Regions from separate parts of the Homo sapiens genome. Here regions 2, 3, 4 and 5 are each linked to region 1. Evidence: fine-mapped expression QTL. A gene starts in region 1. Each other region holds a variant in brackets. All regions are shown on one strand. Distances are between the middles of the regions.

Region 1 (6,442 bases):
TTCCCTGTGCTCATGCTCATATCAAGGATGTAAAGTAAGAGCTGGCAATTGATTGGGTAAACTTTCTAATTAATAAGTGCTTTCAAAATACAACTTAATATAGAACGCAAGAAATGTGATAGTTTATTTGGTTTATTTCCTGGAGATCTGGATTTTATGGTGTTATGTGGCAGTGTGGAATAATGCACAGAGGATGAGACATCCTAGGATGCCGGGATGGAAGCCTGCATTCTCCCCCAGGTTTACCACTTACTCGTGTGTAACCAAGTACAGTTGGCTCTCCATATCCACAGGTTCCACTTCCGTGGATTCAAGCAACCATGGAACAAAAATATTTGGGGAAAAAACCACAATAAAAGTAATGCAGCAATAAAAAAAATACATATTTTTAAACCAATACAGTATAACAACTACTTACGTAGCATTTACATTGTATTAGGTACTATAAGTAATGTAGAGATGATTTAAAGTATATGGGAAGATGTGCATAGGTTGCATGCAAATACTACAGTATTTTATATCAGGGACTGGAGCATCCAAGGATTTTTGTATCCAAGGGGCATCCTGGAATGGATACAGAGGAACAACTGCGGCCACTTTATATCACACTTAATATTGAGTGAGAAAGGAAATTACCCCATGCAAGATTCTTCCTACAGTTCATTTTCTGAGAGGAAAGAGCACTTCTCTAGTCCTGGGGGATGGAAATGTGTCTCACAGCCTGAGGAATCTCTCTCTCTCTCTTTAAAATGAGAGCCAGTGAGATTCATTACACAGTTTTGTTTTCTTGCCATTGCCTCCTTCAAGGTTTTGCTCAAATCTCGACTTTTCACGAGGACCACCCTGACTCCTACGATGCTGCAGCCTGGCCACCCTCAAACCCCCTTTTATGTTGCTTAACTTTTTTATTTTGTCTGTTGCACTCAACTCCTTCTAATATACCACAAAATTGTAGTTCAGTGTCAAATAATTTAAGCTCCATGAGGGCAGGGATCTCACCTATTTTGTCCAATGATGTATCCCAATGAAATGAAAGAGTAGCAGTTAGCATCGGTGCCTGGTATTTATCTTTCTGATGAACGAATCTATATTCAGATGCCATTGTTGAGCACATGGAAAGCTACATGCTATGGAGGGTTGAGCATAATCAGAGTTTCTTGAAAGAACAATTTCTGTTTTCACTGGACATTTGCATGGTGACACTTAACCTCAAACACTTGTGGATTGTGCATATGAGTGTTTTTGCCCACAACTCTCCTTGTGTCTAATGCAATGAGCAGAGCGAGGTCACTCTTGCAGATAAATTTGTTTTCCAAAGGGGAACTTTGCCCGCTAATTTAAGGCAGCCACATAATCTGACTTACAGGCTCAGTCGTTTCTCATTTGCCATCTGGCAATTTAATTACTTTAAAATAAAGCTATATATAAAATGAAATAACACAAATTGGAAATCTGTGATAATATGTATGATAAGATGGTAACGTTTCTATGTGTTCTTTTGTTTTGTTGTTGTTGAAAAAATAAAGGGCATAAAAAGACCTGAGAAGGAATCATTTCAAAGCTTTCCCCTATGTGTTCTTTTGTTTTGTTGTTGTTGAAAAAATAAAGGGCATAAAAAGACCTGAGAAGGAATCATTTCAAAGCTTTCCCTAGACAGAGCCCCTTATATAAATTTTATTCTTTGACTAAGAGCCTTTGTTATAAACTAAATGTTTTGAATTAGTGGATTATTACATTTTTCCATTGAGTTATAAGTCTGGCCCAAAGCTATGAAATAAGAGGTTGTCTAAATTGTTTCAAAAGTGTTTGGCCATGAAGTGGAACTGGGCTGAGATGTGAGGAAGATTCTTTTCCTTTTTCCGTTGTCATAGTATTTCCGGATCTATATTCTCCTCTTTTTTCCTATCCCTTTACCCCTGGAATATGTTTTTTCAGTGCCTTCTTATACTCTGTTTCTGATTTCTCTGTCTCTACTTGTGCTTCCCTAGTTCTCTGTGGTTAATTGCCAATGGGCAAAAGAACCAGCACTCTGGATGGTAGATTCAAGTTAAAGAGTAACTCAGATAATGTTTGTTTGAGACAACATTGAGGGAAGGGCGATTATGGAATTCTGAAAACCAGGAGCCTAAGTGACAATTACATATAAAATAAAGATTAAAATGATTAGGGTACTTTATCTAATTTATCATTTGGAGTGGGGAAGTTGTATTTTTTTTGGTGGATTTTTTTTTTTCTTGATTGTTGTGGCAGCTAGATGCAAATAAGATCATGCTTTGGAACACACAATGCTGATTCTCAATCACTGGCAAAGAAGGGTGAGAAGACAGAGCATCCTAATTTGCACAAAAATGCAACCAAGTCATCATTTGCAGCTCCTTGGAGATTCTATTCTAAAGTTTTACTGCTTGTACAAGTTCCTTTGGTATCGGAGGCAGAGCCTGGGGCGTGGTTGGGAAACAATAGTTTGGTTTTTTTCCCCCCTAAATCAGTTCAAATCCCATATACCCTGAATTAACTGGAATTGCTGTCAGACTTGGCAGCTCCTGTAAAAGATCTGGGTGTTCATAGGGGCCTAATGAAATGGGGAACACATTTGTTTCATCTTGACTTCCGTAGAGGAAAGTCTGCACTATTTTTGTGGGCTCAGAGAGGAGGAACTTCTGATCTGTTGGAGAGAAAACTGAATGAATGGGCACTGAGGCAGAAAGCCTGATGTGGCTGTCATGCAAATAAGAACCGTGATTGGCTTTCTCTTTCTTTCAGCGCACGATGTCACTGGCTGCTCTCAGCCTTAAAGATTAGGTTTCAGTAGGAGTTTTTCAGGTTCAAGGACTGTTAATGGTTTGTAACTGCCTGACAATAAACTCAACCTCAGTTACATCAGCCTGGGCAGATGTCTAAGGATATGAGACCGGGGGAAGAAAAAGTTAGAATCTGTAGCAGAAGGACGAAGCTTGCCACCTGCCTACTGGGCTGAGCTTTTAATGTGATTTACATTTCTAAGCTCTATGTAGGTGCCCTGGAAATGGTGGTCTTCATTAATGCAAAGATTAAGTCTTTAATTAAACTTTTTAAGAAGAAAAGTAAGTAGTTCCTTTTCTCTCTACTACCTATTGTGTGCATATGTTTCCATATGTGTATATGTCCCTGTGTGTCTGTGTGTGTGTGTGTGTGTGTGTGTCCATGTGTGTGTTTTAGGTCCTTCGTTCTTTTGTGTGAAGAAATTAGAGTGTGAAACAGCGTAATAGGCATGAGTTAAACTCTACTCTATACCAGGTTGTTTAAATACCTCAGACTTTTGTAACTCTAGGACAGTATTATGTGATCTTAGCATGTCTTATTTATTTATGATTGGGGTTTTAAGTGAATTCACTTCTTCTGTGCTTTTCAAAAGAAGTCCTTTGAAGAGGGGGGAAATTCTTGTACTTAATTTATGTTTCCCTTGATATCAAGTGTATGATTTTTTGATTCTTTGGATAAATATGCAGCTGAGGTAAGGGAGCCTCTGTGTAATGTATCACATATTTCTGGTGGAGATAATCCCCTGAAACTCCCTGGCACTCTTTGTTGTGTATTTAAGAGCTCGAGCACAAACTGTCTAGACTGATCAGTGATTGTTGTAAGGTACAGAACTTTTGTGATGTGGCTTTATTGTGTACTTACCATTGACTTACATTTCTTTAATGTAGGTGCTTCTTCATTCTCTTGAAAATAATAATTTTTATAACTACTTGGCTTTGTTTTTACATAGTCGGTGGTTTATTTTATTTTAGTTTAGTTTAGTGTTTGGACCAGTGACTTATACTGGATAAATGAACATGGGTAGGGGCATTGGTAAGAGGAGCTTTGGAGAAAGCTACAAAGAGCAGCACGGTGGGCTGATTTTCTGCAGCTCCTTGCTAAAGGCTGCCTTTGGATGAACAGATTAAAAGTGGCCCTGGCGAGAGTGAGGAACACGAGGGGAAGAGACTTTTTCATAGGAGCCAGTTGGTAGCTGTGCAGTGGGGCCGATGGTGCGATTGATGGTGCAGACACGAATGCCATTACTTGGATTTGATTTGAAATTGTCGAATAGGAAAAGTTTCCATTTTCAATAGTTTCTAACTCTGAAGTATGGTAACTCAGTCTTTAAAATAAATGGACATCAGCACAAAACACTGTGATGAACTCTGGCTACACTTTGGGGGGACATATGGTGAGTTTGGCCCAATGCTAGATTCTTCTGAAACACAAATGAGGGTTAAGTCAGGTCTTTGTGGATTTTGTGTATTAAGATTGATAGTTGTATGCACCATGCAAAACATTTGCTCAACAAGAGTTTACATGAAATACTAGGTGCCAAATTCACATACTGCTTTTGTCAAATACTAAGCAGAAAGCACAATGGACATTTCTGTTTTTAACTTGATATCTAGTTCTCAATGTTTATTTTCTCATTTAGCAACTTACGGAGAAGGTGGGGTCCTTTTGAAAATGAGTTATCCTGTTCAGATTCATAAGATTGTAAAATTTAGTAGCTGCAGAAAAGATGGTATGTGAGATGAGCGCTAGCATGTGGCCCAGGTTTACAAGAGACAGTGACAGTTCAAAGTTTGGGGCCTCGTTAGAATAATTTTTACTGTTCCTGCCACAACCATGTTTTACCTGAGTTATTTCTTGAGCTAAGTACTTTATGTATATTGGTTCATTTGATCTTTAGAGTAGCCCTAATAACTGTGCTATAGAGTATGTTTAGTGAATTTTAGATGTGCTCAAATGGATTTAATAGTTTATGCGTGTGTTCTCATGTTACTTTGAGAATTCATTTTATGGTCTAGTTTCCAGGTACATGTTATGTTGGGGACATGGATACGCCCAGTGTGAACTCTATAGCATAGATCAGAGTCAGGAAGACTTGCTCCTCACTCACAATTCAAGTATCTGCTGGCTTTACAGGGGTTAGACTTGCTACCTCAAGCAAATGCCTCAGCACAAGGACTTTCTCCAGTACCTTTCCAGTCTCTCTTATGCCTGGGTTACATGGCAGGTATATAGAAAGTATTAAAACATTGTTGATGAATTTGTTTTGGTGCTGTCGGCCTCATTTTGGGCTCCACTGATGCCCCAACTTAGCTCGTGTTGTCAGGAAAAATGAACTAGAGAGGTCTCAAGCCTCCGAGGATTTAAAGAAAAATTATTGTAGAGATTTATCTTACTCTCAGGATTTTACCTGTTATTTTGTCCTCTAATGTCTTGGTCTCTTCTGTGCTGGGAAAATTTAGTTGAACTGGATTGTGTTGGGAAGAGTCAATTGCATTGTAATTTTAAAAATGTTTAATATAAAAGGGTTTCATGAAAGCAAGAAATGCAGAGAGAATTTTGTAACACAAATGGGTCTCCACATGTATTAGCTATGTCATTTACATGTAAATTGAATGTTTACGCTTAATTTTTTAAAAATGTAATTGAGTTTATAACAGTGATGCTCTTTAAATAATGCTGTAGAGGGAGAATATTTGTTATAAACCTCCTGGTAGGAAATTCATTTCTATCAGGACAGTCTAACATTTACTGTTGCGATGGCATTATACAGTTGAGTAACTGCTATTTGTTGTGTGTGTGCGAGGGGGGTTAAGTAGGAATTGGAGGTCTCTATCAATTCTGTCAGATGTTTTCAAACATTGGAGTAAAGGGAGGACCTAAAATGCTGGGAAGCAGTTAACTGAGCAAATGATTCTATGAAAACATTGTTTGGAGGGTGGACACTTTCAGCTTTTCTTTTATAAGTAAAACACTGTGGGCGAGACCCCTGGAATCTAAGATTAAAACTAATTTAGGATTTGCTCCATTGCTCCCTTGCTGGCCCTTACCCGTGGATGTGTTAGACATGGAAACACATCATGATGTAATGAACTCGTAGCCAATGAAGTTGACACCTGAATGTATTCTATCTTTTTTTCTATAGCGGTTTCCAACCTAGATGAGGAAAGCCGATGGACAGTCCACTACACTGCCCCGTGGCACCAGCAGGAGAATGTGTTCCTTCCCACCACAAGACCCCCCTGTGTTGAGGACCTGCACCGCCAAGCCAAGCTCAACCTCAAATCAGTACTGAGGGGTAAGATGGCATCCTCTGTGAGCTTATTTTCTTGGGTTACTGGCTGCTGAGAGCATAAATTTGATATCTATTTATAAAACCAGCTCTACTTTTATTGAATGTATAGTATGCTACGTCTTTATACGATATCATAAATACAACCTAATACATGCTGATATGGTTTGGCTGTGTCCCCACCCAAATCTCATCTTGAATTGTAGCTCCCATAATTCCCCTGTGTTGTAGGAGGGACCCAGTGGGAGATAATTGAATCATGGGGCCAATTTCCCCCATACTGTTCTCATGATAGTGAATGAGTCTCATGAAATCTGATGGTTTTATAAGGGGACACCCCTTTTGCTTGGC
Region 2 (6,442 bases), 37 kb before region 1:
CTCTGTGATGGCTCATTGGGGGAGCAGTATTACACCTAAGCCATATTGAACTCCTTCTAGTTACAAGGATGTGATCAGTAGTCTACACATGCATTAGAAAAGGTGATAGTTAATAGGCAAGGCAGATGGACCCGTGTGATAAAGGCAGGACATCATGTCACCACCATTAACCAGGTACAGATGTATGCAGGGGTATGTATTTTTCTGTGTTAAACATCAGAAGAAAATACTGCTGAAAACAACCTGAGGGTCTTTAAGCAATTAATAGATTTTGCATGATTAAACAGTTTGGCAGGATATGGTATTGGGGATGCGGGGTGGAAGATGGGTAGTCTTAAATTAGGAACATTAATTATTTTATAAAATCGTATGTAGCAATTGCATTTAAAATTAAGAGATCCTAATTTGACAGCCAACAGAATGACAAACTATTTGATTTAATGTCAGCAGTGTTCATCTTCTATCTGGTGATTATGTGACATTTATCAGTCTTTGTTAACTTAGATTACATTTAGAACTTTTTTTGTTGTTGTTACTGTCAAAATGTGGTTAACCCTGAGATCCATTGAAACAAAAGGCCTGAGTGACTTGACTGTGGGTTTAACTTGGGGGAGGGGGTGCATGATAACAGAAATGTGAGTGCTCATCACCACTTTTTCTTTGGAATGTCTTCTTATAACAAAAAGATATAAATAGCATAAAGTGAGCTTTAGGAGCCACAAGTTGTAGTACACTTTAAGTGAATTTATATATACACAGAATAGTTTTCAAAAGGTCAGATGATAACATATGTTTGTACTTGTGAAATTTTGCAAGACAGCATTTGAGAGCAAAAGAGAAAATCTCGGCTTTGCTGACCACAAGAGGCCATCTATGTTCTTCATTATTTTGTTTCACTGAGTGAACTGTGCAAGGTTCATTGTTGCTGGAACTTTCAGAATAAAAGTTGGGACAGACGCCTCTGCTCTCTCGAGGGCGCGAACATTGGGAGCAGGTTCAGGGGAGGATGAACAGTGACTTAATGTGTGGTCTCTTAGGAAAGGGAAGGCAAAGGACCACAGGAGCCTGGCTGACGAGCCTGGCAGATGCCCAGAGGATGCTTGACTTGGTAGAAGATCACGTGGGGAAACTGGGTTATACCAGACACTGAGAGTAGCAACTTTTCTAATTCCAAACAGAGCAAATGAGAAAGGGGCCTCAGAAAATGCCTTGGTGTTAGCTATGTGGGATGGCATGGCAAAAGAAAATGAAGTATATGAACACACCTAGCCCCCAGTGGTGGTACTCTATCTCTCCTTCCTTAGCCATCTCCTACAGATTTGCACTTTTGCTTTATCTAGACCCTTTCCTAATTTTAAGAGGACAAAGGAAGCTCAAGTCCCTTCTTTTTTCCTGGAAAAGTTTTGCTGTAACAGAATACCCAGTATTTTATGCAAAAGAGATCAATATTGTCCCAAGGTGGCTAATTTATATGTCAAAGGGTATCCAAGATTTGTCGACATTTTGAAATACCTCTGAAGTTCATCAACTCTGACCAAAATATTTTGATAGAATTTGGGGTGTGTTATTTCATTGCGTGTTGATGAGCACTTACCATGTGCCAGTCACTGTTCCTACCCCCAGGAAACTCTTCCTGTCTGATGCTCTGGACTTCTCGCCGGCCTGGATCTCTGCAGCCCCAAGACTTCTGGTTGTTTTCCTGCCCACTGTAAAGGTGCTACTGCTTGTGCCAGCTTTTGGCGGTTCTTTCTCCAAGATTGACTTTGGGAACAAAGCAAAGCCAGAGACTTTGTAAAGGGTTTCCCTGCTAATCATGACCCAAATAACAAAAATAATTAACACAGGTTTGTAAAGAATATTCAAGAAATCCCAACTCTATCCGTTAATCATATCATCTTATCCCTTGAGTAAAGATCTCCTTAGCTCTGAGAATGGATCTGCCTAATAAAATATTGAGGATTAAGTAAAGCTTACATAAGATGCTGGTATTTTCTCTGTAATATATAGTGATGTTATTTAAATTTGACCTCTCTAAGGGCTTAATTTGGTCTTTGAAAGTGAAGACTGATTTGTACCCTAATTTGCAAATGTAGTATTTCTACATAGTGAGAAAGGCAGATGTATTTCTCAGTTTTCATCACAGCATATTTACGCCAACTTTTAAAAAGTTTTCTGGACCTACACAGTTGTATAAATACATCCAGATGAATAAAAAAGTATTACAAGTCACATATATTGGCAAAGGAGCGTGGTAGCAACACAAATATTTTGAAAGCTATGTAAGCCAGTGAGAGTATCCTGATACCGCTCTAACAGCTCCAACGGAAGTGTTTGCTGCCACAGCAATTGAGACAAAACCTTTCCTTTTTGGAAATGTTTCCTGGCAGAACAAATACTTGATAAAAATTTAAAACAAGATTTGAACTGCTCAAGATGGTGCCTTTCATAAAATTGTTTTATTTTTACAAACTCTTTCCACATCAGGAAGAGAGAAATCTATGGGTGGATGGTTTTATCCTTATATAGGTGGAAATGTCCTTATTTTAGGTTGACTGCTGTACTGAGGAATTGGGAATGAGCTCCCCTTAATTATTGGGTTATTTCTCTTCTCGTTGTATTTCTTCTTCTGTCAGTAATTGGCAGCCTATTTTTCATCTTAGAGAGAAGAGGCCAGGGAGTGTAAGAGCTGTCCACCTGAATTGTCAGTCAGTAAATTACGATGGAAGTTTAAAACAAGTAGCATACTCAGAAGATGACATATGTCTGGAGTTGGGGGAAAGAGGAGGGAGAGCATTAGGACAAATCCCTAATGCATGCAGGGCTTAAAACCTAGATGACGGGTAGATAGGTGCAGCAACCCACCATGGCACATGTATACCTACGTAACAAACCTGCACGTTCTGCACATGTATCCCAGAGCTTAAAGTGAAAAAAAAAAAAAAAAAAAAAAAAAAAAAGATGACATATGTCCCTCTCCAAAACCACGGAATCTATAAATGCTGAAAAGATTGAATGCAGATGATTAAATTTGTGATGTCTGTAAGCATGATTTAAATACAAAACATTAGTTTGATGTTTGCCATCACTTTTAGGTTTGGGTTTACAAGACTGCTCCTATAGAGATGGCTGCTTTTCCGTGTCCAGTGAGAACTTTTAATGCTAAAACATCCAGTGTCGTTTCTGCTTGCCACAGAAAGTCAATGTTGGTTGGTATGGCAAATATCATAAATCCTTATTTGTATGTTATTTGACTTACGATAACACACTTGGCTGAAAATGAGTTTGTCTTAGTCGCTCCCCAGTCCTCACTCACCTTTGTGAAACCATAGAATGGATCCATTGTTGGTGTGTTATCTGCAAAAGATAAAGTGTCTATGAGCTGGGGAAAAACTGGAGCCCC[C/T]AAAATAAATGAGATTCCTTTAACACATGCCATACCACAGGTTTCTCCCAGACTGCTGTTTTGGACTATGTTTGACTAGATTTCCTTTACTCTAATTTTCCCTTGCCCTCTTTTTAATTTTGGAAAGCTACCTTCAACCTCTGTGTGTGAGTAGCCACCCTCCTTTGTCTCTTGCTTGACGTTGGCCCCCCAGCAACTAGCTCAGTGTCATGTCTAAAATTAGATCAGTCTGTATGGATGCCCTGTAGGGAAGTGAGAGAACAGGCTCTCTCTGCCAGAGCAGATCCTCACCACACAATGAAAATTCTCAGTTTACGATAATTCCTAGTCAATGTCATGAGTCTTTTGCTGTTTTACAGTAAGGCAGTCTGGTATTTGGTGTACTGAACTGCAGATATGAATATCTAGCTGCCACATTTTCACCTGGATGTCTAACTGACCTCATGAACATATCAAAATTCCTGTCCCCCACCCCTATCTATCCCACTGCAGACTTCCCCATTTCGTGGCAAATCCACCCTTCCAGTTGCTTATCCCAAAAACCTTGAAGTCATTTATGACTTCTTTTTTTGGTAAGGGGGTGTCGGGGAGGGGAGACAGGGTTTTCTTGTTCTGTTGCCCAGTCTGGAGTGCAGTGGTGCAATTATGGCTCACTGCAGCCTTGACCTCTTAGGCTCAAGTAATCTTCTCACCTCAGCTTCTTGAATAGCTGGGACTACAGACATGCACCATCATACCTGGCTAATTTTTTTTATTTTTGTCGAGGTGGGGTTTTACTGTGTTGCCGAGACTGGTCTCGAACTCCTGGGCTCAGGCAATCCTCCCGCCTTTATCTCCCATAGTGCTGGAATTATAGGTGTGAGCCACTGCGCCCAGCCAACAACTACTTTTTTTTCTTATTCCTACATTCAATTTGGCAGAAAATTCTATTGACTATATTAATTTTTTTCCCCATTATCTGACTACCTCTTACCATCTAAACTGCTACCTGCTTGGCCTGAATTTCACCTGGATTATCATAATAGCTTCCCTTTATAGCCTACTTTCAACCCAGTAGCCAGAGTAGATCTTTTAAGACCAGCGATATCGTGCCAGTCCTTTGCTTTAAAGCTTCATTTCACTCGGAGTAAAAGCTCGTCTTGGCAATTTCTCTTTATTTTTGAAATATCAATCACAGGCCTGAAATAAACCTAGGAGGAGAAAGTCTGTTTTCTAAGCTACAGAACTTGCAGCTGCATCAAACCTTTAGTCTGGAAGAAAAGGAAAAGGTTTCCCTGCCGAACTACAGTCCCAGCTGAGTCGTGTTCTTGTTTGATGCTCCAAGAAGGTATGGTCTTTAATGAGACCCCTCCATCTTTTCCTTAATGCAAGTGAGGATCGTTCCACCCCATCTCATTTTATCATTAAAAGTGGCAATCTGTGTACTAAATGCAGCCACAGAGATTTACCTTTGGGCTTTATTGACCAAGTTTGATAGAGTTTCTGTTGGAATTTTGGAAAACTGATTTCCATGGCTTTATTGATAGGGATTAAGTTAGAAATAAACAGCAGGGAGCCTGTAGAAGTTAGAGAACTAACTTAAATGTTGGAGCAGGTTAGTTTTTATTTGTATGCATATATCTGTTGTGCTGAGGTTGATGTGTGATGAATTCTATGAAAAAGGCTCTGCTGGTAAATACAGGGTATTTTACCCTTTCAAAGGGCTCCTTTTCTTTCATAGCATTATTAAAATGGAGAGTAGGATCCAACCCAACTCACTGAGTGGGATTTGCACGTTCTATGGGACCTGAACCCTCTTTTTTTGTGGGGTCGTCATGTACCAAGGGTCCTTTGCTTTGACGACTAGATTGTAAGCTCCTTGAGGGCTAAGTTCATTAACTTGATCCAGAAGAATTCCAGTAGATAATTGCTGATTAAAGGAATGAAATATTAATATTTAATCTAGTTTGGGTAAAAAGACTTTAACCATCACTCTCTATGAAAACAAATGGACTTGTTTGAGAATAGCTTAAAATATAAAAGTAGATTGTACTACTTTCAATGGGACTGAAAATACGCAGGCTATTAATTAGCAGAGCAAGAAAGATTTTTAATTCTGAGTTTCATTTTTTGTAGCAACTCAACCAAAAAATCTGATGAAACAGTTTCAATCATTAATGGCCTGTAGCATGTGGAAGCTGGTCATAGAGGAGGAGAAAAGTTAATGTGTTTCTAGAAATTTAAACATTCAGAACAAATGAGTCTCAGCTTCGTGGTGACTGGAAGGAAGATAAGCATCCCATGTAGCTTCTTGGTCTTAGAAGTGGCAGGTCACCGTCTGGAAAATGGCCCATTGCCTGTTGGCCCTTCTCAAGCATCACTCTGAAGTGGCTACACTTCTCTTGACTAAAAAGGATTAAGGATTTACTCACCAAGGAAAAACACACCCTTTATCTAAGCACTTTCCTGGCTCTTGGGTTTTCAATGTTTTAGAAAAACACTCCAATGCATAGTCCCATGAATGGGCAATTGATCATAGACAGAAAAAAATTATTTTCAGAAATATGAGATTATTTCTCTTAGTAAATCATCATTTAAATGTGTATTTTTTAAATTTATTTTTTATTTTTTTGAGACGGAGTTTTGCTCTTCTTGCCCAGGCTGGAGTGCAGTGGCGTGATCTCGGCTCACCGCAACCTCCACCTCCCAGGTTCAAGCAATTACCCTGCCTCAGCCTCCCGAGTAGCTGGGATTACAGGCCTGGCTAATTTTATATTTTTAGTAGAGACGGGGTTTCTCCATGTTGGTCAGGCTGGTCTTGAACTCCTGACCTCAGTGATTTGCCCACCTCGGCCTCCCAAAGTGCTGGGATTACAGGCGTGAGCCACCATCCTGGCAGTAATTTTTTAAAATAATAATATTCATTGAAATTTTATTTCATTTGGTCTTTCTACCCTTTGTTCTAAATTTTTAGGTCCATTTGATTATTTTCTAGGGTTCCCCTGTATCTATTTCTTTGTATTGCCATTACATTTGTTCCTCATTTTCTCTAAATGTGTTCAC
Region 3 (6,442 bases), 46 kb before region 1:
AATAACTCAGATCAGCCATGGAGAGAGTCCCGTGGTGAGATGGAAGAGGCTAATCAGCTGGTCTGGTTTTGATCTTGTTTGTTAGGTGAATCAATCACCTCATGGTTTACACAAATGAAATGAGCTATGAGGTTCCCTCCCATTCTGTTCTAAGAGTTAATATCAGGCCGGGGATGGTGGCTCACGCCTGTAATCCCAGAACTTTGGGAGGCCGAGGCGGGTGGATCACAAGGTCAGGAGATCGAGACCATCCTGGCTAAAATAGTGAAACCCTGTCTCTGCTAAAAATACAAAAAAACATTAGCCGGGCCTGGCGGCGGGCGCCTGTAATCCCAGCTACTCGGAAGGCTGAGGCAGGAGAATGGCGAGAACCTGGGAGACGGAGCTTGCAGTGAGCTGAGATCACACCACTGCCCTCCAGCCTGGGCAACAGAGTGAGACCCTCTCAGGGGAAAAAAAAAGAAGAAGAAGCGTTAATATCACTGTTCATCATTCCCCATGCAGTTTTTTTTTTTTTTAATCCTAACTAGCTTCTGGCTAGAGACCTCTTATATATTCTTGTGATCATAGAAACTAGTACAGTGACTTCCTTATGGTAGACAACATATTTATTACCCAGGTGCTATTGGTGATTCATGGTGACAGGGAGCAGAAACCCAGCTGGGATATGCTGCACCGTATGTTGAAAACCAAAAGAACATAGAGCATCCTTACTGTGTGGCAGTGAGCACCCCAGGACACAGACAGATAGATAGATTGGTTCTGTGAGTCAGTTTCCTGCATCCTGTGGAGTCAAAAGGAAGACCTGCAAACAGCAACGGGTCCTGTGAACAATGGCCACTTCCTGAGCCAGGAGACTCACGTCTCTGTGGGGAAGGACCACGGGGCCACTTAGGGTTCAGATGGTACTTTTCAAGCAGGGTGCTCCTGAGGCAGTATTTGTGGACTGTTTCTCATCAGGTCTGTCATAAGATTCCTTCTGCCACTTTCCACCTGTGTTTGAGAGTCCACAGTCAAGTAACCTTGAACTTGCCAGAGTGAATTTAGCTTTCCAGTGGAGGGGAAGAAATGTACTGATCTGATCACAGCCACAGTACAGTTAGAAATTCTCGTACTCTAATGCTGCATTTGTTTCCTCATTTGAAAAAATGACATTGCCATAGAAGTGTAACATGCTTCACATTTTTATCCTAATACTCAAGTGGTTTTCTTGTTTTCTGTTTGTTTGTTTTTTGTTTTGAGACAAGGTCTCACTCTGTTGCCTGGGCTGGAGTGCAGTGGTGTGATCATGGCCCAATGCAGTCTCGACCTCTTGGTCTCAAACAATCCTCCCTCCTCAGCCTCCCAAGTAGCTGGGACCACAGGTGCATGCCACCATGCCCAGCTAGTTTTTTTTTTTTTTTTTTTTTTTTTTTTTTTTGTAGAGATGGGGTCTCACTGTGTTGCCGAGGCTGGTCTCAAACTCCTGGGCTCAAGTGATATTCCCACCTTGGTCTCCCAAAGTTCTGGGATTATAGGTGTGAGCCACCATGTCCGCCCCGTTTTTAAATAGCAGTATGTAGTAGTAATGATAGCACTTACTTTGTGCTTATGATTTGTCTGGGACTGAAAGAGCATTTCACATATATTCACTCATTTACGTAGACTCAGACAACAGAGTGCAAAGTTTCCTATTATAATGTGCAGTGTTAATTATGTACCAGTATATGGTGTGTTCTATATTAGAAAAAAAAGGGGAGCATGTGAACAGAAAAGGAATAATGAAGTCAGTGAATAGTAAGTCATAATTAATAGCAAAAGGTTAAACTGAATTGAGTGATTTCTTTTTTGTGTTGTTGATCACGTGAAGAGCTGCATCCGCTGTGGTGGAAAATGCTGAGAGAGAAGCACAAACAAATGGGCTCGCCCTTGGGCTGATCTGCACTGGACTATATGAACGGTGACTGCTAACCCCTGGCTCCTTTCCCCTTTCAAGATGATTGCAGGCTGATTCCATGGTGTGAAATAACCCAGGAGAGATAGGGAGGTGTCAGCAGCACAGCCCAGCAGGCTGGGGATTGGGCAGTGGCTTCCTGGAGTAACAGGCGCTGGCTGGCCGCCCCGCTCTCTGGCAGTGAGCGCTGAGGAGGTGGGCTGGGAGACAGCTGTGCCTAGCACTGCAGGCTTCATCAGACCACAGAGCACAGCCCCTCCATGGAACTGCTGCAGAATGTTCTGTCTGAAAGGTGAGGGGACTTCGTGTCCATTTGGGTGGCAAAGTTCTACTTGGGGAAGATTGTCATTTAGCATCAGAGTCTAAATCACAGAGCTGATTCCAGTAAAAATCAAAGTTTGAGGGAGTTTTGTAAGTATGAAAGTGAAAAAGTCATTGTTCTTTTTTGTTGCAAACAGGAAGAAAGACCTCCTGCTGGGGAGATGGAATTCTCTTCTAGACAGAAAGGATATTTCTGTGTTTGAATGTGTTTTGTGTGTGTTTTGTTATAGACAAAAGTAGCTAAAAGTTTAAAAGAAGGTTTTTAAAATCAACTCAATAAATATAGGAATAGTTTACAGCAGTAGTAGAGAAATTTTCATGTAAGGAGTTGTTCATGTAAGGGTTAGAAGGAGTAGAAAGGGTAAAGGATTCTATTGCTTTAAGCTTTACTCTGTGAACTTAGGAGTGAAATTAATTTGACTATAGAACATACTTCTAGGCTGGGCGTGGTGGCGGGTGCCT[G/A]TAATCCCAGCGACTTGGGAGGCTGAGTCAGAAGAATTGCTTGAACCCAGGAGTTGGATGTTGCAGTGAGCCGAGATCGCGCCACTGCACTCCAGCCTGGGCAACAAGAGTGAAACTCGGTCTCAAAAAAAAAAAAAAAAAAAAAAAAGAAAAGAAAGAACATACTTCTTGTTCTGGCCACATATGGATTATAATACTTCCTAAGTACTATAAGATGGTGATTATATGAGTATATGTCGTCATTCCCTGATTAGTCAAGGAGTATTTTCTCTCTTTAGGCATTTATTTTTTCCGTCAACTCTATTTTTCTTCCAACTCTTATTACAATGTAATTAATGTAGGCATGTGAGAGTGTGTTTGTCTATGTGATTGTTGAAATGGTGGGGGTAGAGGGGGAGATGAATTTCCTTGGAACTGTTCTGTTCATATCTTTCAGTGTATGTCATTCTGTTGATGGGAAATTCTTGACATCTTTTCAAGTTTTGGAAATAAAGTGGTCCTGGCTTATTTGCTTTGTGGATTGCTCCTTTGTCCTCAAAGTCTGTTCATGAGGTATAGACGTGGATTCTGTAGACCCAGGCTTTGCAATTTTAACCTTATTTTGACATCTTAAAACCTACCAGTCTTTAATATTGAACTTGGTGTTTGGGATATTCCTTTATATAGTAGGTGCAAATTTGGTGAAATTGAAGGGGTAAGAACAAAAAGGAACATCACATTTTTCTGTCCTCAAGCATTCAATTAATTCTTACTACAGAGAGTATCTAGTTGCAGTGGATTTCCAAGGAGTCATGGGCTGACATGAATTTAAGTATTTCTGAAAAATAATTTTAGATGAAAGGCATTATGAGCTCTCATGACACTGTTTCTTCCAAAAATTGTTCTACAAAATGTTTAGGTATGAAGAGTCAGTGGTATTATTGGATGAAGGTACATGCTACCTAGTGTAATTTCCACAGTGCAGTTGAAATCATTACAATCCAATGATAGCTTAAGGTTTACAATTTTTAATTGAATACGGTTGTGGAATTGTTACTGGGTAGGACATCTGCAGCTTCAACATATTTTTCTCCACCTATTCCCATAACAGCCATTTCATTTTATTAAAGAATCTCTCATTTTCTTGGACTCTTAGTTTCTGTGGTAACTCAGAAAATTTTAAAAACTCAAACGTATGGCATGTGATGACAACTAAGTGCTTTTACGCTGAAGTGTGTGTTCTAATCAGGAATCCACAATCGCACCCTTTTAAAGCCTACTCTCTGATCTCCCGGCAGCTAGGACAAACAGTTGACATTCTACTTTCTTCCTGTGACTTATAGCTTGTTGATTTACAATAATGATTTTTAAGTTGTCCTTTGCCCTACATATGAAGCAAGCCCATGATAAAATAAGGGTGAGTGAGATTAAGCAGAAGAATAGTAAGAGCTACTTGTTGATGCTTTGTGTTCTTACTTTGGAAAAGTGGCTTTCATTCATTGGTCTGTGGCTAGCCAAGGTCCTAGGGGCTATTGCATATGTGGTTGTGATTAGCATTGATTTTAAAGGAAACATGATTGCTCTTCCTTTGGTTTAAATCATGTTCCTGTGTGTTTCTTGTAATTGCTGAAAGAAAATATTTAAATCAGATCGCTTCCCACATTGATGCAGGATTTCCTTTTCTCTACTTAGACTGTTTCTTTTCTGAAGCCAGGTCTGCTCAGCTTTTTGTCAATTTGGCCTTCCTTGAAGAAGGATGCCATCTTTCTCATTATTGTCACTATCGTAACTTATATAGTTACAATCACTCTTTGCTATTGAAGTATCTCAGATACATCAGCTTCTCCCAACTGCATTTTGTATGTGCAACATTTGAGCACTCAGTCTTTGTGAAGATGTTCTGCGAAGTTCAGCTAAGGTCTCTGTGGCTAACAAAGGCATGGTACGTTCCTTCACTGTGTAGCAAGTGATCCATTATGGTCTGGGAAGTGAATTATGGCTAATCAAATAATATGATTAATAGCGAATAATATGATTAATAGCAAACTACCATGTGTACCATTCACAGATTATTCTAAGACGTAGAATAGGCCAGGTGCCATGTCTCAAGCCTATAATCCGAATGCTTTAGAAGGCCGCGGAGAGAGGATCACTTGAGGCCCTGAGTTCGGGACCAGCCTGGCTAACATAGGGAGACCTTGTCTCCACAAAAAATTAAAAAGTTAGCCAGATGTGGTGATATGGAACTGTAGTCCCAGCTACTTGGGAGGCTGAGGCAGGAGGATTGCTTGAGGCTAGGAGTTCGAGGCTACAGTGAGTCATGATTGTGCCCCTGCACTCTAGCCTGGGCAATAGAGTGAGACCCTGTCTCGAAAAAAATGTTTAAAGAATAAATAAAAATTAGAATAAAATGTTTTTACTACTAAAGCTACGTGGAACATAATTACACTTCTCTGAAATAGTTCTGAATGTAGATTTCTTAATTATGGTACATCAGCTTTAACTTTATAAATACTAATTATCTTTGCAGTGCTTCTCTAACTTCGGTGAAGACTTTTTAAAAGAAATTTCCAAACCATTACAGACTGATGTTTTGTAAAACACAAAATCATGTGCTTGTGTGATATCACCACATTGTCAAACAGCTATAAAAGTTCTTAAACATTTAATCTCATTTCCTGTACTAATCTAATTGTGGACTGGTAGTGAAGTATTGTCCTACTGGCACTGGTTAGTAGACAAATCTGCATTAGTTTCCCAGAGCTGTCATAACAAATTACTGCTTAGTGAGTGGCTTATCCAGAAATGTATTCTCTCACAGTTCTAGAGGCTAGAAGTCTGAAATCAAGGAGTTGGCAGGGCCGTGCTCCCTCTGAAGGCTCCAGGAAAGACTCTTCCTTGCCTCTTCCACTTCCTGATGGCTCCAGGCATTTCTTGGCTTTCGGTAGCATCACTTGAGTTTCTGCCCCTCTTCCTACCGCCTTCCTTCCTGTGTGTTTCTCTGTGTCTCTGTGTCAGATGTTTTTCTTAAAAGGACACCACTTATTGGACTTAGGGTCCACCCTTAATCCAGTATATCACTTCACCTTAACTAATTACATCTGCAAAGACCATATTTCCAAATAAGGTCATATTCCAGGGTTGTGAGCGGACATGATTTTGGGAGGACGCTATTCAACCCAATTCAGTGGACCGCATGTAAAATCACATAGCCTGAGGGCAGCTGCATGGGAAGTGTGTTTAATGGAAAACTGTAAGAATGATATCCAACATAGCTGCTTTGAGGATGCCTTTGAAACTATGGCAATGCAAATTTAAGATGAGTTTGTATGTGTAGGTAGAAGAGTTGAAAATGTACATACCCATTATGATCAGTCATGCAAAGGAAAATGTTGCCTTTTTATTTCCTTTAATCGATTCGGCTTCTTTCATGAACTTTTATCCCGCTGAGAAGGGGAAAAACAAAAAACAAAATTGAACTTAGTTCACTGCAGTCAACTCAGTGTGAGCCAAAAATTTAAACAGTTGCATTAGATAGCTCAGTCTGTTGGATGACTCAGTCTTTCAACATTCTCCTGCTTATCCTCCTTCTCTTCAAAGGGGACTCTGTTGCTAAGTCCCCCTTATTAGTATAACAGAAGTAAACCATGCTAAAATATGTACTTTTGAAATCATTGGTGTGATTGTTACACAATGTTGAAAATTTTAAAGCAGACTCTCTGCTGTTGAGTTTTAAAAACGAGGTAA
Region 4 (6,442 bases), 73 kb after region 1:
TCTGGCTCCAATTTCTGTTTTACTTTGTCTCACTGATTTTTATGACATTGGGGACAGTGGCTCAATGTGATACGTTCTGGTAGGCGCTGCTCTTCCTGGCAAGGAGCGCAGTGTGGCAGTCATAAGACAGAGTATATTAGCAAGAGTCGGATTAAAGTGACTGACAGTGCAGTCAGGAGGAGGAATGCTATGTTCTGTGGACTTAGGATGCACAGACTAGCTCCATGGGACTCTCTTCCTAAAGATGTTTTAGTTTATTCTAATTTTTTTCATTTTACAGAAAAACCACAGTTATACAGAGCAATTTCTTTGGCTGCTTAAGTGTTTCTATAAAAGAGTACGGCCCTTTAAGCGGGAGCAAAAGAATGACTTATGCTTGTTAATATACCACTAGTGCCATCTACTGGCATCAGAAATCGTTGGGTTTAAAAACAAACAAAAAGGGTAAAATTTTCAAAGTAATGGCCTGAACTGTTACACTTTTTATATGTGGTCACCTTTAAGAGTAAATATGATTTAGCACTGAAGTTTTACTTACTGCATCACTTTTCTGATTGGAAACAGCTGACTACTCCCACACAGTGTCATCGTAAAAGCTGATGACTGTATATGTGCAACTACGTTAAGCCGTAATGCTGTATAAACCTTTTGCTTCCTTCTAGACTTCTCTACCACGGTATTTCCAGGTAACTCTAATGAATGTCCTTATGCTGCCAAGGCCTTATTTTGCCCTGAATGAAGATCCTTTCTTTTTTTTTAACCTCCTGAAACAAAGCATCCTGTAGAATCATTTGATTCTGTGTGTGAATGATCTTATGTCAGCACTGCTTTCCCAATTCTTGGACTCTCCCTGAAAAGACTATTGCATAAGATGAAAAACATAGTGCTGTACCTACCTGAAACTCTTCATGCAACACATTAACATCTAACTTGGTGTGGGGGGAACGAAGCCGGTGAATTAATGTTCTTGTCAAGAATTACGCTCTTTACGTCGCTCCTCTAGTGTTGGTATAATAGATCCTAAAGACTGCCCCTTTTAACATGGACTGGTTTCTTCAGTCTCATTAGAAGTGAAAAGGTAGCTGGTTGTCCAATTATTTCTCAAAACAGAGAAATGATAAATGATGCATCCTTTGAAACTTCAGTGGCAATTCTAGAAGTTCCCATAGATGTTTCTAACTCTTAACCACGCTAGACACATAAGAAGCACTCAATAAATATTTCCTGAATTAAATGAAACCAACTGGTATTTAACCATTAGAAGATTCTTCCAAGACTCAGAGTATTTCATTTAGTATGGAATGCACTGGGTTGCTAAATATACAGGCATATCTGTCTATTTATAATAGCCATCCACAGAGAAGATTTGCGTAGCCTGGTTGTTCTGTGTACTCGATACTTGGTTCCAGTGAGGAAACCCAACTGTTGTGGGTCCAAATTACTGCATATTTTTTCCCAAAAATATGCCAAAGGCCTCTTCTATATTTTGGCAACCTTCTTAAGGCATCGAAAAATGTGTTGTTTCTCTTACTAGGACGTTACATCGACTGCAGATGTAGAAATCGGTCAGTTGGTGTTACTCAGTGCACGTATGAGAGAAGTCAAAGCCAAATAGGCCTTAGGAATGGATTGCAGAGAGAGAGTGAGGACATATGCTAATTTCTGTTGTAGCGTTGAGAATAAATTAGCAGACATAGTAAAAATCCATCTACTGTCTGTGCTTTTTTAGGGCTTTATTTTTATGTCCTTCAGCGCTTAAGCTCATAATTTAAAATAAAGAATATCTAAGTTGAAACACAGCTTCCAAATTTTATAATGCAAATTAATTCGCTTCAGATTTAAAGCCAGATGGAAAATGTAGAACACCAGTTGAGGTGTGAAGTTTTTATATTTATTGAAGTAATTAGTTTTAAAATCAGTGTTAACTGTTTAAGCACTTTTTATAGCTCTCTTCATTAAAAATACATATTCGTGTGTGTGTGTTGTGTATGTATATGCAAAGAATTTGTACATTTAGATTTAATTATTTTAGTGGGCACCTGCTCTTGAGAGATGACAGTGCTTTCATAAAATCCCATCTTTCTTCCTTTTTTTTTTTTTCTTTTTGATACAGAGTCTCACTCACTCTGTCACCCAGGCTGGAGTGCAGTGGCGCGATCTTGGATCACTGCAACCTCTGCCTCCCAGATTCGAATGATTCTCCTGCCTCAGCATCCCAAGTAGCTGGGATTATAGGC[G/A]TGTGCCACCATGCCCGGCTAATTTTCGTATTTGTAGTACAGACATGGTTTCACCATGTTGCTCAGGCTGGTCACCCCATCTTCTTTCTTAATTCTATGTCTACAATTAAAGGTCATAGTTTTACTCAAGTTTAGTTGTGACTTGTTTAATGGATCTCAGCATACTCTCACCGTTTAAAATCTAAATTACAAATTAAGTCACCAGCCAATACCTAAAAGAATGAAATGAGCAGAGCTGCTTTGGGGAGTAGACCATGTAAGTGGTGAGGCCATGTGCTATAAGCTCAAGTCCTAGTTGTCATACTAACAAGTTACCTTTTCTCAGTTACCTTTTCTGAAACCCAAAGTGGTTGGACTAGACCATTTCTAACGTCTTTTCTAGCTCTACAGTTTCGAGATGTTAGGATGTCTGTAGTTTTGTCAGCCGGTCCTAACTCTTATCAGGGCAGACTGCTCTTGTTAACTACTGAGTGGGACCATGAAACCTGTATGGTAGGCCATGTTCTGCAGTCCCAAAGAGTCTGGTGCCCTGTCCACTCTGGCCACCCTTCAGACCCTGTATTGGGTCCTTACCATTTCCCAGCCTCTGCTTTAGTGGCATCTTTTTGACCAGAAGAATGGAGATGACGCCAGGAACACCAAGCCCAGGGCAGCCAGCATGGGCCCATGCTGCCCTCTGTCTTGCTGTGTAAGCCACGTAAAAACTAAATCCATTTTCTATGTGACATTCAAAGGTTTGTTAAGCACCTGCTCTATGCCTGACCAATTATGGCTATCACTGCATTCATGAGTACTGACAAACTGTGACCTATATACTGTTATTCCCCTTTTGGTGATAGGAAAAATACACAGTCAGAAATGTTAACTTGTCCAAGGTGACAGAACAAGGAAGCTTTAGCAGTGGGAGTTATGTAGCTAGCTTCTTTATTTCACTTAATCTTCACAAACCTGTGAGGTTGGTATCTTATAAGTGAGGAGGCATGGCATGCATGGGTAATTTGTCCCAGGTCACACAGCGAGAGGTGGGAAGAGTCTGGTTTCAACTCTTAATCTGTGTGTACAGATATCATACTCTCAACCTTTCCCTGCTGCATATTCTACAATTTTATAGCAGGAAAAGAGATATACCCACGTCTTTATTCTATTAACTGTGTTGAGTTTCCTTAAAGCAAGTTCTCCTGCACTTAGCTAAGAGACACAGACTGAGTTGTTGTCATGAAGAGACCAGCAAGGGGCCACTTGGCTCACTGGCTTTATCATCTCTTTGTCACTGGCAATGGAAAGCACATTGAACAGTGAGGTTCTCAGAGACTCAGGACAAGAAATACCTACAGGAAACCTTCAGCTTTCTTTGATTGCCCCTTCGTCTTCCCCACCCCACCCCACCCCTCACATTTTCTTGATCAGTGCAAGGTTTGCTGAGTCGATCATGAAGCAGGGTCTGGCATGGAGGGTTCGCCTTTGTTTTCTGGAAGGCTGGATTTTAGAAGTTGGCACATGGTCCTGGAAGAGCTGAGGAAGACTGGTCTGACGGCAACTTCTAGAATAACTGAGAATGTGAAGCTGAGGAGTTGTTCTAGGACCTGGAGTGGGGTACATCTTAGTACAGGGGATATTCTGGCATGGAACAAGAAAAGGAAGCATAGAAAGAAAGGAGGGTCAGCATGTGAAATTCACTCCGGATCAGCCCGTCTAGGAGAGATCAAGGAAAACTGGCCATTATTAAAACTTTTGGTCCTGTCCAAAGTAAGTTAATAGTGTCTAAGATTTGTTTCAAATAGGGAGGGTGGAGACAAAAGAAGGGTGACCGTAATTAATGATTATCATAGGTGAGTTATGGGCTCATGCGGTCTTGCAGTGAGCTGTTCTCTTTTGTGTGGGTGTTTGAAATTTTCCAAAGTTAAAAATAAATTATTTGCCAGGCACAGTGGCTCACGCCTATAATCCCAGCACTTTGGGAGGCCGAGGCAGGCAGATCACCTGAGGTCAGGAGTTTGAGACCAGCCTGGGCAACATGGCAAAACCCCGTCTCTACTAAAAATACAAAAATTAGCTGGGCTGGGCATGGTGGCAGGTGCCTGTAATCCCAGCTACTTGGGAGGCTGAGGCAGGGAGAATCGCTTGAATCCGGGAGGCAGAGGTTGCAATGAGCTGAGATTGCGCTATTGCACTCCAGCCTGAGCGACAGAGTGAGTCTCAAAAAAATAAAATAAATTATGCATTTATTACTTTTTCTTTTTTTTTGAATAGAGATAAGGTCTTACTGTGTTGCCCAGGCTGGTCTCGAACTCCTAAGCTCAAGTGATCCTCCCACCGTGGCCTCCCAAAATGCTGGGATTACAGGTGTGAGCCACTGTGCCCAGTCAAAAATAAATTTTTTGAAAGTGAATCTTAAGTAGATGGTGACCTGAAGATGCGATAAGAGCAGAGTGGTTGTGGCTGACAGCCTGTGGTCCCGTGGGAATTAACCTTTTTCTTAATGTTATTAAATCTCAGATCCAAAAGGAAAGTCCTCGGCCGTAGAGATTCAGATGATGACCACTCCCGAAACCATTCTCCCTCCCCGCCCGTGACACCCACCGGCGCTGCCCCAAGCCTGGCCTCTCCAAAGCAAGTGGGGTCGATTCAGAGAAGCATCCGAAAGAGCAGCACCAGCAGTGACAACTTCAAAGCTCTGCTGCTGAAAAAGGGCAGTCGTTCAGACACCAGCGCCCGCATGTCTGCAGCAGAGATGCTCAAGAACACAGACCCTAGATTCCAGAGGTCGAGGTCAGAGCCTTCCCCAGATGCCCCCGAGAGCCCGTCAAGCTGCTCCCCAAGCAAGAACAGAAGGGCGCAGGAGGAGTGGGCCAAGAACGAAGGCTTGATGCCTCGGAGTCTGTCCTTTTCCGGCCCCAGGTACGGCCGCAGCCGAACGCCGCCTTCTGCCGCCAGCAGCAGGTACAGCATGCGGAACCGGATCCAGAGCAGCCCCATGACCGTCATCTCGGAGGGAGAAGGGGAAGCCGTGGAGCCTGTGGACAGCATAGCCCGCGGGGCTCTGGGCGCTGCGGAGGGATGTTCCCTGGACGGACTGGCGAGGGAGGAGATGGACGAGGGCGGCCTGCTCTGTGGGGAGGGGCCTGCCGCCTCCCTGCAGCCCCAGGCCCCCGGCCCTGTGGATGGGACAGCCAGTGCAGAGGGCAGAGAGCCCTCCCCACAGTGTGGCGGTTCTCTGAGCGAGGAGAGTTAGGGCCAAGAACGTAACTCTCCCAGGTGACACGGGGGGAGACGAGCAATGCAGCACTCTAGGAAGCCTGCTAGGCGCCCTTCCCTGGCTCACCCGGGGAGCCCACTCTGCTTCTGTGCTGTGGGCCCCGGGGTTGCCAGCCCTGCAGTGTGAGTGAACGGTTATTTAGGACTCACCTGGCACTTGCCCTGTGGCTTAAGAACAAGTAGAAGCTTAAACTTCTGAAAGTGCTTCCCGGGGAAGATTTTTTTTTTTTTTTTTTTTTTTTGCTAAATGCTGGGTGTGTATGTGTGCATTTTCCACACTTTTTAATTTTTAAAAAATACACATATACACAAACAACATGTACAGAAATAGAAGAAAGCAAGCCAGACTTAAGCTTGGTAGAGTAACGGAGTCCTCTGGTCTAGGCGGTAATTGCTTTCAGAGAATTACGTTTATAGAAATCAGCGAGTTTTGTAAGAAAGGAGAAGATGTTACTTCAAGAAAGAGGCAGTAGAGTTGCTGGTTCTTAATGCACAGAACACACAGATATATGCACACGTGTGCTGCTGAGGTGAGGCAGGTCTGGTGAGCACGGAGAGGCTGGGAAGGGGCTAAGTGACTAATTGGTTCAGGTACTTTTTTCTGGGGGAGGTAGACTTTGCTTCTTTTTTGTAAAAATGACAAACGTAGAAGTGGCAATGCTGTAACCTGGTGCCTGCTGCTGTGCAGCCACATACACACAATTGTAGCCTGATTTTTAGAAGTGTGGGTAATTTTTTAATGAATTTCCTCCTTGAGTAGCAGCTGAGGTCATTGACAACTGAAGTGATGGTGTGGACATAGAGAGAGGGGAAGGGTTGGAAAGGAGTAAGTGATACACTGCTGGAATTTGTTTCCTGCCTATGAAATAAAATTATTTTTCAGAATTAAATTTGAAAACTTGCACTACAGAACTATGGGTGGAGCTTTTCCTTTTACAACAGTTTTTTTT
Region 5 (6,442 bases), 100 kb before region 1:
ATGTAATTCCAGCTACTCCGGAGGCTGAGGCAGGAGAATAACTTGAACCTGGGAGATTGAGGTTGCAGTGAGCTGAGATAGTACCACTACACTCCAGCCTGAAGACAGAGTGAGACTCTGTCTCAAAACAAAAACAAAAACAGAAAACAATAACCGTATTTGCACATAAGAAAGGAAATACTTAGGTATAAATCTAATGAAACATACAAAATCTGTATGCTGAAAATTACAAAATGCTGATGGATAAAATCAAAGACGTGAACACATGGAGAGACATATCATTTCATGGATTGGAAGACACACCATAGTAAAGATATCAATTCTCCTGCAAATTATTCTATAAATTTGACACAACTTTTAGTAAATTGATAGTGATATCAAAATAACAAGCTTAAAAACATAAGCCTGATATTTCATCTTCACATCTTAAAAATCCCAGCTTAATTAGTAGTTACCATTTTTCTGTATGCTGCTATCTCATTGTAGTCCTGTGAAATAATGATAAACTTATCGGCTTTATAGGTTTGCAGTCTGATAGATCTTTCAATGAAAAAGTTAAAGTGTGTACATTTTCTTATTCTTTAGCCTTAGTTTTTTGTTTTTGTTATTAAATAAATTCTTGAGTTTTTGTGATACTGTTGCTGGATTTAAGAAAAACTTTTTTTTTCTTTTTTGAGATGGAGTCTCGCTCTGTCGCCAGGCTGGAATCCAGTGGCGTGATCTCGGTTCACTGCAACCTCCACCTCCCGGGTTCAAGCGATTCTTCTGCCTCAGCCTCCCGAGTAGCTGGGACTACATGTGCGTGCCACTACACCCAGCCAACTTTTGCTTTTTTAGTAGAGACAGGGTTTCACCATGTTGGCCAGGATGGTCTTGATCTCTTGACCTTGTGATCCGCCCGCCTCGGCCTCCGAGAGTGCTGGGATTGCAGGCATGAGCCACCGTGCCCGGGCAAGAAAAACTCTTATAATCAGTATTAATCATTTTAGATTCACCTAAGAGTAAATTTTTTAAAATAGTACTCCTCTTGTATGAGTTTTCTGCATAACAGGTGCAATTGAGCAATAGCCACACAAGTGTCTAGGGATGGTGCTGAATGTGTAACAAAAGGTTAAAGGGTTTTCTAACAGATTGCCAGCAGTGTTTTACATTTCCTGAATGATCTAAGTGTTGGTTTAGCTTGGGACTGGAGAACATAACAGATTTAAAAAATAACAATGAATATGGTTGCTATGTCAGAATTAAAGAGTTATTTAAATAAAGTCAGGCCAGGGAGTATAATCAAAAGATTCCCAACAATCCTGGTGAGTTTTACTTTAGAAGAAAGTTCTGGGATAAGTGATTCAGATTTATAGTGGAACCAGATTTTATGTTCATTTCTTTCCAGTTAATCCAGATTCTATTTTATACATTTAGTACCTTAAAAAGTAAATGAAGGGACATACATTTGAATGGAATCCTTTGTTTTCTATTGAATTTAATGCTTTCATAATCATTATGAGAAAATACTTTCAAATGATTTACACATGATTTAGAAATGCAGGCAGCCCTTTCCAAGTGGTTATTGTATTCTGACACACAGTGATTTTTGTAGATATATCATGTTACAGAATGAAGTGGCCATTTTTGTGGGATGAATTTTCTAAAGAACATGTTGAAATATTGGAGGTTAGGGTTATTTTAAAACATGAGTTTCTTCTCTCACAAATTAAAGTGTTTGATCCCTATAATTGCCAGACTATAAGCTCTAATAGGGATAGTAAGATCTAAGTGTTGGTTTAGCAACGACATTAAGAAAATTTTAAGTATAGCTCTGAATTTAAAAGGTATTAATATTATTTTTCATTTAAATTGATAGTAATTTCATGAAAAACAAATGGCTTAAACCCAGGGAAGCAAGGATTATAATTGATTTTTTTGAGCAATGTTCTCTTTTGGTTACAAAGTAAAAGGTAAAATAAAAGTTTAAAAGCATTTGGAAAGAATGTTCTTTGGTTTTTTCACTCAGTAACCTAAAGTTTAATGACCCTTTACAGTGCTGATAAACACTTAAATTTTTGCAGTAGGCATTGCTAGTTCAAATTGAAGGAAGGTTGCCAGGCTCATGCCTATAGTCCCAACTACTTAGGAGGCTAAGGCAGGAGGATCCCTTGAGGTCAGGAGTTCAAGGCTGCCATGAGCCATCATTGTGCTACTGCACTCCAGCCTGGGCAATAGAGTGAGAACTGGTCTCGAAAAGAAAAGAAAAAGAAAATAAAAGAACAGAAAAGAAAGCACTGAGTGGACCTTAAAATACCTCTGTGTTGCTTCATTTTAATTAATTAATTAATATTTTTTTTTTGAGATGGAGTCTTGCTCTGTTGCCCAGGCTGGCGTGCAGTGGTGCAATCTTGGTTCACTGCAACCTCTGCCTCCTGGATTCAAGCAATTCTTCTGCCTCAGCCTCCCTAGTAGCTGGAGCTACAGATGCATGCCAACATGCCCAGCTAGTTTTTGTATTTTTTTAGTAGAGATGGGGTTTCACCATGTTGGCCAGGCTGGTCTCGAACTCCTGACCTCAGGTGATCCACCCGCCTCGGCCTCTCAAAGTGCTGGGATTACAGTCATGTCATGAGCCACCATGCCCGGCCTGCTTCATTTTAAAGGTACTTCATTCTTCCTTGTATCCTGAAATCTCTCAGCACCAACAGGGAAGGCATTTAGGTGACATTGGAAAGTTACTTTCTGATGCCTTCTATAGGTACTAAGCTGACCCTGCCTGAGATCTTGCCTTGAGATCTGATTGGACTTAACTGAGCATTTGTGATTTGATCATCTTAAGGTATCTCAAGCACTGAATGAGAAACTGGAAGTTTCTTGTGTATCTGGGTTATACACTTGGTCCATTCTAATTTCAATAGCACCATTATTTCTGCAT[A/G]TGTTATATAAGGAGAAAAAGACCTTAAAGAGTTCTAAATCTTTCTGTTTTTTTTTGAGACGGAGACTTGCTGTGTTCCCCAGGCTGGAGTGCAATGGTGCAGTCTCGGCTCACTGCAGCCTCAGTCTCCTGCATTCAGGTGATTCTCCTGCCTCAGCCTCCCAAGTAGCTGGAATTACAGGCACCTGCCACCACACCCAGCTAATTTCTGTACTTTTAGTAGAGATGGGCTTTCACCATATTGGCCAGGCTGGTCTCGAACTCTTGACCTCAGGTGATCCACCCACCTTGGCCTCCCAAAGTGCTGGGATTACAGGCATGAGCCACTGCGCCTGGCCTTACATTTTTTTATATTGTACTGGTTACCATAAAACACTAAATTATGTAGAATTTGTTTTGAAAAAAATATGTAATAGAATCCAAAACAATTAGGTAGCTCAGAATGTTTTCTTAGGTTATACTCTGTGCCTGGGTCAAGAGGTAACAGACAAATAGGATCCAAATTTTACAGCTAGATGACTTGGACACACAGAGAGTAGGTGACTTGCTGATGATTAAACAGGGAATCTGATGGATCTCCAGGCCCTAAGCTCTGACCTTGGACTCTTGCACTTTTTGCAGTCTAATGTTTAGAAACATATGGGTGAACCTGAATTAAAGAGAAATACATGTAAGTCCATTTACTTTAATTTCATTTTCATTATTGTACTTAAGAGTGTGAGGATGCAGTCGTCTTTGAATGAAGGCAGCATTCAGTATTAGTGGGATTGTTTAGCTTCACCCACCCTACCACAAAGAGATGAGGAAACGCTGGACGTTGTTTTAGTCTGGTCAGCAAATCCAAATCTATGAGCATTGTGGAGAAAGGGTCTATGTTCACATATATTTTTAGTAGTTCTTAGAAGAAAGAAAAATGCTGCTTTTTTTTTTTTTTTTTTTTCTTCCAGATGAAGTCTTGCTTTGTTGTCCAGGCTGCTAGAGTGCAGTGGCATGTTCATGGCTCACTGCAGCCTCAAACTTCTGGGCTCAAGCCATCTTCTGACCTCAGCCTCCAGAGTAGCTGGGGCTACAGGTGTGCACCACCACATCTGGCTATTTTTTTTTTTTTCCAAGATGGAGTCTTGCTCTGCCACCCAGGCTGGAGTGCAGTGGCGCAATCTTGACTCACTGCAACTGCCGCCTCCCAGGCTCAAGCGATTCTCCTGCCTTAGCCTTCCAAGTAGTTGGGACTACAGGTGACCACCACCATGCCCGGCCAATTTTTGTATTTTTGTAGAGACAGGGTTTCACCATGTTGGCCTGACGGGTCTTGAACTCTTGGCCTCAAGTGATCCATCTACCTCGGCCTCCCAAATTGTTGGGATTACAGGCGTGAGCCACCACGCCTGGCCTAATTTTTTAAAAAATTATTATTTGTAGAGATGGGGTATCTCTACAATTATTTGTAGAGATGTTGCCTGAGCTGGTCCTGAACTCCTGGCTCCTATGATCCTCCTGCCTCGGCCTCCGAGAGTGCTGGGATTATAAGCATGAGCCACTGTGCCCTGCCAAAAGCTGATTTTTAAGGTGGGGGACAGTTTCACCTGCACCGCCTTCTCTGCTGGAAATCATCATCAAGGTCACTGATGACATTATCATCGTCACTGGGGAAGTGCTGGCATAACCTGTAGGTCAGTGCTTCTCAGTCATAAGAAATATTTTTATTATCTTTTTTCTACCCTGAAATGAGTATCACATAGCCAATATAATACATCTATTCATGCATGCTTAAAAAGTCAATATAATGTCCTACCTGCAATGTAAGGAGAAATTAAAGAAGGCCATTTTTACCTTTTCATATTCATTGCTCACACAAAACTGTACTTACTGGAAGATGGAATGAAACCGTTGGATGCTTACATGTGTGTGGAATTACCATGATGAAAAGCTAGTGACTCAAACACTACAAGCGGTTAGGTGGTCAGTGATATGATTTTTCAGAAATGGTGAACAATTCCTGCCAAAATTCCAAAGTAAGCAAGGAGTCTACACTAGAATAACCAGAAACGAACAACATGTACCCGGGACCTGGAAGTGAGGCGTGTATGGTGATGTTTGATTTGAATTTTGGACTAAAGTTCCGTGATGATTAATAGCACAGGCAGCCAAATGAAAAACTTGTCAAATCAATAGTTACGTAGATTTTACTATTAAAAGGAAATAACAGTATCTGAGATGGAATTAAAATTTCCAGGCTCCTAAAATCATTTCCTGTAAATTCTTTGTTCTTTAGGCTATATGACACCAGATCAAAACTTCGGAAACTAACCAGCCATTTTTATGGATTGATGCTTCATATGCCAGCACTGAATTAGGCTTTTGTATTCTATTCGCTGTTTGCAGGTCTTAACTTTTTGTTTTTCTTTTTGAGACAGAATCTCACTCTGTCGCCCAGGCTGGAGTGCCGTGATGTGATCTTGGCTCACTGCAGCCTCTGCCTCCCAGGTTCAAGCGATTCTCCTGCCTCAGCCTCCTGAGTATCTGGGATTACAGACATCCGCCACCACACCTGGCTAATTTCTTATATTTTTTGGTAGAGACAGGGTTTTGCCACGTGGGCCAGGCTGATCTCAATCTCCTGGTAGGTCTTAACTTCTGATTGCAAGGCGGGAACCCTGAGCACTTCAAACTCTGCTTGAGAGAGTTTTTCTGTCACGCTTAACTCACGCAAGGTAGGAATGAATAATTTGCTGCTGCCGCTGCCTCTAGAGACTATTTTAAAGGATTATCTCATGGAAGCTTTCAGAACTTCCCCCCCACCCCCGCCAATTGAATGTGGGTGAGAAACGGACGTGAACTTAAAAAACTTACCAAGCTTGGTTCACCTCTCAGGAGCAGGTCTGCTTAAATTAGCTGCATTGAGCTCCTCGATGTCCTTTTGCGGCGCTGCTGATTCTTTCAAGAACCTTGGCTACCTTGCCAAATGTATCACTCCTTTATAATCTTAAGCGTTTTAACAAATGAAATACAGTTCAGTTTCTGCACTTGGTTTTAAATGTCATGATGTGTCTCAGCAATCCACTTAGTCCATCAAAATCACATTTTGACTTGTCCACATAATCCTTTTAGACTGTTTCTGGATTTATTAAGTGCTTTTTCATGCAGTTGATGAAAAAGCTTTCATTTTAAAAATAATTTCCACATGACGCTGGAGGCCTCCCATTGTAGTTTAACAATAGTTGAGATGTTGTATTGTTTATTCAAAACTGCCAAGTAGCGTCAGTGCTGGTGGATGGGAACCCTGGATGGAATGCTGGGAGAGCCCTGGGGAGGTAATTTAACCTCTTCGTTGTTCAGTCCTGATGTCCAGTGGGTTTCAGCAGCGTGTCTAGGTTTACTCCATTGCCAGGCAGAGGTAGATTCTGCCTCCTCTGCCCCTTTGCATTCCTTGGATCGACCATTGACTACTGGAAGGCATTCAGACCATTACCTTTCTATGCCTTTTCCTTTGCATAAGACCTGCAAAGGAAAACATACTTTCATCCT

Direction of the effects. Alleles are on the strand shown, and positions count from the first base shown. SD is a standard deviation of normalised expression in the study named. Not every link is listed here.
As copies of G replace A in region 5, the expression in monocytes of the gene that starts at base 2,822 in region 1 goes down (large effect, 1.0 SD a copy in Schmiedel 2018).

What was found. PIP is the estimated chance that this variant, and not a neighbour inherited with it, causes the effect. A credible set is the group of variants that fine-mapping cannot tell apart.
Region 2: its variant is the best candidate, but not a certain one, in a credible set for the expression of NHSL1 in pancreas (GTEx, PIP 0.53).
Region 3: its variant is the best candidate, but not a certain one, in a credible set for the expression of NHSL1 in esophagus muscle (GTEx, PIP 0.88).
Region 4: its variant is the best candidate, but not a certain one, in a credible set for the expression of NHSL1 in thyroid (GTEx, PIP 0.80).
Region 5: its variant is the best candidate, but not a certain one, in a credible set for the expression of NHSL1 in monocytes (Schmiedel 2018, PIP 0.54).

The regions. Positions count from the first base shown.
Region 1 is chr6:138,495,874-138,502,315 of GRCh38, reverse strand. It overlaps NHSL1 (NHS like 1), which reads left to right and starts at 2,822. Exons shown (of 8, transcript NM_001144060.2): 1 at 2,822-3,083; 2 at 5,945-6,097. The coding sequence starts at 3,026.
Region 2 is chr6:138,533,118-138,539,559 of GRCh38, reverse strand. It overlaps a transcript of NHSL1 not described here. Among named protein-coding and RNA genes, the nearest start is that of NHSL1, 37 kb to the right of the region's middle. RefSeq lists an enhancer at 1,414-1,583. The variant C/T (reference allele first, on the strand shown) is at 3,401.
Region 3 is chr6:138,541,406-138,547,847 of GRCh38, reverse strand. It overlaps a transcript of NHSL1 not described here. Among named protein-coding and RNA genes, the nearest start is that of NHSL1, 45 kb to the right of the region's middle. The variant G/A (reference allele first, on the strand shown) is at 2,717.
Region 4 is chr6:138,423,108-138,429,549 of GRCh38, reverse strand. NHSL1 (NHS like 1) reads left to right here. Exons shown (of 8, transcript NM_001144060.2): 8 at 4,734-6,442. The coding sequence ends at 5,469. Among named protein-coding and RNA genes, the nearest start is that of MIR3145, 9.0 kb to the left of the region's middle. The variant G/A (reference allele first, on the strand shown) is at 2,238.
Region 5 is chr6:138,596,043-138,602,484 of GRCh38, reverse strand. It overlaps a transcript of NHSL1 not described here. Among named protein-coding and RNA genes, the nearest start is that of NHSL1-AS1, 92 kb to the left of the region's middle. The variant A/G (reference allele first, on the strand shown) is at 2,918.